2 separate regions of the Homo sapiens genome follow, and region 2 is linked to region 1. Evidence: fine-mapped expression QTL. Tissue or cell type: whole blood. Region 1 holds a variant in brackets; the other region holds the start of a gene. All regions are shown on one strand. Distances are from middle to middle.

What was found. PIP is the estimated chance that this variant, and not a neighbour inherited with it, causes the effect.
Region 2: it holds the start of PYGO2, and the variant in region 1 is fine-mapped to the expression of PYGO2 in whole blood (INTERVAL, PIP 0.95).

The regions. Positions count from the first base shown.
Region 1 is chr1:154,984,837-154,987,336 of GRCh38, forward strand. All of the region lies in intron 1 of FLAD1 (flavin adenine dinucleotide synthetase 1), which reads left to right. Among named protein-coding and RNA genes, the nearest start is that of FLAD1, 2.7 kb to the left of the region's middle. RefSeq lists an enhancer at 776-1,465. The variant G/C (reference allele first, on the strand shown) is at 1,201.
Region 2 is chr1:154,960,527-154,963,026 of GRCh38, forward strand. It overlaps PYGO2 (pygopus family PHD finger 2), which reads right to left and starts at 1,256. Exons shown (of 3, transcript NM_138300.4): 1 at 948-1,256; 2 at 451-500. The coding sequence starts at 1,050. SHC1 (SHC adaptor protein 1) reads right to left here. Exons shown (of 12, transcript NM_001130040.2): 12 at 1,772-2,500. It overlaps PYGO2-AS1 (PYGO2 and SHC1 antisense RNA 1), which reads left to right and starts at 1,012. Exons shown (of 1, transcript NR_171036.1): 1 at 1,012-2,097. RefSeq lists silencers at 802-1,261, 1,312-1,721 and enhancers at 863-1,603, 1,604-2,343.

The sequences.
Region 1 (2,500 bases):
AGTCTTACTAGAGGACATAACAGATGACACGGGTTTTTTTGTTTTTGAGACAAGATTTTGCTCTGTCACCTAGGCTGGAGTGCAGTGGCACAGTCACAGCTCACTGAAGCCTCCATCTTCCAGGCTCAAGCAGTCCTCCTGCCTCAGCATCTGGAGTTGCTGTGACTACAGGTGTTAGCCGCCACACCTGGCTAATTTTTTTTTTTTTTTTTTTTTTTTTTTTTTTTTCAGAAACGGTCTCACTATGTTGCCCAGGCTGGTCTCAAACTCCTGGGCTCAAGCAATCCTCCCACACCTTGCTGGGATTATAGGCATGAACCACTGAGCTTGGCCAAATGTCAAGTTTTAATAATAATCTTTTTTAATATTCTTTGTAAATTTGTGTTTTTTTTGTTTTTTTTGTTTTTTTTTTTTAGATAGTCTCACTCTGTTGCCCAGGCTGGAGTGCATTGGTGGGATCTCAGCTGACTGCACCTCCACCTCTCGCGTTCAAGCAGTTCTCATGCCTCAGCCACCCGAGTAGTTGGGATTACAGGCATGAGCCACTGCACTCAGCCTTAATAGACCCTTTTTTTTTTTTTAGACAGAGTCTTGTTCTGTTGCCCAGGTTGGAGTGCAGTGGCGTGATCAATTTTGGCTCACTGCAACCTCCACCTCCCAGGTTCAAGCAATTCTCCTGTCTCAGCCTCCCAAGTGGCTGGGACTACAGGCATGTGCCACCACACCTGGCTAATTTTTGTATTTTTAGTAGGGACGGATGGGGTTTCGCCATGTTGGCCAGGCTGGTCTCGAACTCCTGACCTCAAGTGATCCACCCACCTCAGCCTCCCAAAATGTTGGGATTACAGGCGTGAGCCACCTCACCTGGCCCTGACCCCAATTTTTTTTTTTTTTTTTTTTTTTTTTGAGACAGAGTTTCACTTTTGTTGCCCAGGCTGGAGTGCAATGGCTCGATCTTGGCTCACCGTAACCTCCGCCTCCTGGGTTCAAGCGACTCTCCTGCCTCAGCTTCCCGAGTAGCTGGGATTACAAGCATGGGCCACCACGCCCGGTTAATTTTTGTATTTTTAGTAGAGACGGGGTTTCTCCATGTTGGTCAGGCTGGTCTCGAACTCCTGACCTCAGGTGATCCACCCGCTTCAGCCTCCCAAAGTGCTGGGAGGCATGAGCCACTGCGCCCGGCTGTGTGTGTGTGTGTGT[G/C]TGTGTGTGTGTGTGTGTGTGACGGAGTTTCGCTCCTGCTGCTCACGCTGGAGCGCAAATGGCGCAATCTCAGCTCACTGCAACCTCTGCCTCCTAGGTTCAGGCAATTATCTCACCTCAGTCTCCCGAGTAGCTGAGATTACAGGCACCCGCCACCACGCCTGGCTAATTTTTGTGGGGTTTTTGTTTGTTTGTTTTGAGACGGAGTCTCGCTCTGTCACCCAGGCTGGAGTGCAGTGGCGCGGTCTCGGCTCACTGCAAGCTCCGCCTCCCGGGTTCACGCCATTCTCCTGCCTCAGCCTCCCGAGTAGCTGGGACTACAGGCGCCCGCCACCACGACTGGCTAATTTTTTGTATTTTTAGTAGAGACAGAGTTTCACCATTTTGGCCAGGCTGGTGACCCCTATATTTTAAGTGCCTACTAGAGTCTGGTAGTGTCCTATACATCACATATATGTGATTTTACTAATCTTCACAACAACCCCACACAAAAATCCCACGAAGTTGGCACTTTTTTTCTTCTTTAAAATTTTATTTTTCTGTGTGCATTTGTTTTATAAACGGGGTTCTCGCTATGTTAAACAGGCCAGCCTCAAGCAATTCTCCCACATCAGCCTCCCAAAGTGATGGGATTACAGGCATGAGCAACCTTGCCCAGCCCCCCACCCTTTTTTTTTTTTTTTTTTTTTTGAGACAAAGTCTCACTGTCGCCTAGGCTAGAGCTAATTTTTTGTATTTTTTTGTAGAGACAGGGTTTCACCATGTTGCCCAGGCTGGTCTCAAACTCCTAGGCTCAAGCAATCCTCCCACCTCAGCCTCCAAAAATGCTGGGATTACAGGCGTGAGCCACCACACCTGGTCGGCAAAAAATCCCAATTGATGAAACTGGGGGTCAGAGAGGTTGAGAAACCTGCCCAGGGTTACATACCTAGGAAGTTGTAGAGATGGGATTCCAGCCTAATGCCTGATGCTCCCTTACTCCAAAACACAGACCCTTTTTTTTTTTTCCTTTGGTGACAGGGTCCCTGTCACCCAGGCTGGAGTACAGTGGCATGATCTCGGCTCACTGCAGTCTCTGCCTCCCAGGCTCAAGCAGCCCACCCACTTCAGCCTCCCAAGTAGCTGGGACTACAGGCATGCGCCACCACGCCCCGCTAATTTTTGTATTTTTTTGTAGAGATGGGGTTTTACCATACTGTGCCGGTTGGTCTCGAACTTCTGAGCTCAAGCGAGCCACCCCACTCCACCTCCCAAAGGGCTGGAATTACAGGCATGAGCCACCATGCCCGGCCATCAGAAC
Region 2 (2,500 bases), 24 kb before region 1:
GAATCCCAGCTCTGACCCTGAAAAACAACCTCAAGACTGTGGAGCATGTATTTAACATTTTTAACCCCCAGATTTCTCATCTGTAAAATAGGGATAATGCCTATCTCCCCAAACTGTTAAAGCATGTTAGCGCAATCCCTGGCACTAAAAAAAGGATCAGTAAGTGGTAGGTGTTACGTTATCATCAGGAGGAAACCAGGACAGGAAACATGGAGGAGACTGGAACCCTGCGTGGTAAGAACTTTGGTCGAATCATCTCTTAGGAGAGGATACTTTCCCCTAAACTTGTTATAAGGTTCAGCGAAAGAACAAGAAGCAAAGCAAGAAAGACAGTTTTCTCTCTCCTCCCTGCAGCTGATACAAGATACAAACAGATACTGGAATGGCAGAGTAGACAGTGTGCCGCCAAGGGGCTGCTGGGAACCAAACCCACCACCAACCACCATTCACCTGAGTATTTGACTTCCTTCGCTTCTTTTCTGGACTCTTCATTTGCAGACCTGGAAGAGCGGCAAAAGGAAGACGCAGACAAGTTTCCCTGAGGTTTCCCCAACCTCTTTTCTCTCAGCCATGCTCTGAGGAACTCCTTTAACGTCAATACATACTTGCTTATTTATTCAACAAATGCTAACAAGGGGTGCAATATGAAAAATAGATTGTGAAGATGATCATACTCTCAGCTACGTCTTCCTTTAAATGAAAGATATCCCATCTTTCGATATCCTCAAGCTCCAAGTGAGTACTGAATTCCATGTGGCTCCAAACCCTAGAGTCCTCAATGTGTGACACCTGCCCCCAACCCCTGGAGGATTACACCCACCCATCCTTTTCACCTGAGCCTCCCTTCAAGCCTTCAGACTGTGAAACACCCCCCGCCCACCATCCCTCCCCTCTGAGGTTCCCAAGTCCTGGGCCTCTTCAGCCCCCGCCCCTCGCAGCGCGCTCACCGGCCTTGCCCTGCTTCCTCCCGGTGCTGGGCGGCGCAGGGGGCGGTGCGGGGCCGCCACCTCCCTCCAGCTTGTCCGGTGGGGGCGGCGCCGAGGCGGCCATGGAGTGGGGGACCCGGGTTAGCGGCAGCGGCGGGGGATGGAGGCGCCCTTGGGCTGCACCATCGCCCAGAAGGGGTGTCAGGGGCAGCCCAGGCCCCCGAGCTGCAGCAACCACAAAGTGCGACGACAGGGAAGCGCCGAGCCGCCGCGCAAACTGCGCGCTCTCTCCAGACTCGCCGCCCGCCAGCGGCGGCAGCAACCGGAACCGGAACTCGTCGCGGCCACCACCACTGAGCGCTGCGGGGAGGGGGAGCAAGGACCGGACGAGACGCTACGCCTGAAAACAGGCGGCGGGCGAGGGACGAGGCTTACCACGGCACCACGCGAGTGGAAAGGGTCGTCTCCGCTAGCGGCGGCCCACACCAGCTCACCGAGGGGCGGCAGCGCGCGGCCCGGCTGCCGGACCGTACCATCCCGGGCGGTGGAGCCGCCGCGGAGGGGCGCGCGCGAGCCGAAGGCGCACCCGGGAGGCCCAGGTAGCCCGGGGGCCGGTGCTGGGGCGCCGGGCAGGCCCGGCTCCCGCCTCGACCCACCCGGAGCCAGCCCCCTCTGCGGACACGACATCCCCATGGGGACGGTGGCGCGAAACGCCCCACTCTGCCGCACCCAAACTCTGCAGACCCCCAGCTTCCCTGGGCGGCCGCGACCTCCCGCCTCCCCGTCTGCCGCTGAGGGCCCGCGGCGTACACAATAGGCTTCCCAGAAGGGTTAAGAGGCAGAGGTAGAAGAAATACGGACTTTAATGAAGAGTTTTCCCTTTGGTATAAGTGAGACCCGTGGAAACATCCAAACAGCAAAAGGAGGCCAGGATGAAAACGGTCAACTCTCCCTTATCCACAAGGCCAAAAGAGGGGGGGCCGGCTTGCTGTGGTGTGGCCACCCCGGGCCTAGGCTGGGCCGGGCCTGTAGAAGGTACTCAGGAACTGCAGGTTTTGCGTTTCCCCTCCATGAAACTGACAGGCATTCGGGCTGACTTCTGCCTCTCAGTCTCGCGGTAAGAGACCCAAGTTTTTCTAGTCCTAGATGGAAATAAATTTCATCTGCCTCAGGTCTCTGGTATAAAAGGTGCGATCCCAGTTACCTCACAGGCCTAGGCGAGGAAAATGCCAAGAGCTGTAAAAGGGCTTGGAAAAGTCAAAAAGGTGATGTATAAATGTAATAATTGATTATCATTTTGTGCTCAAGAATAAGCAATGGAAAAGAAAATAGGAAAGTAAGTCTACAGCCCTAAAATATATGCATATAAAACTTTAAAAGAATGCAGTTCCAACTCTACAGATGGTATGTGGGGATTGTCTACTGCTTTATAGTCTCAATGCCCCTTTTCTCACCTCCACAAAATCCACCTGGGAGAGTTAACTGTACAAGAGGCCCAAATTCAGTCACCCCCACCCCGCCCTCCCAGAAAGGGAGGCAGGGCAGAGGCTTCAGGAGGAAGGGCTGCACTTTGG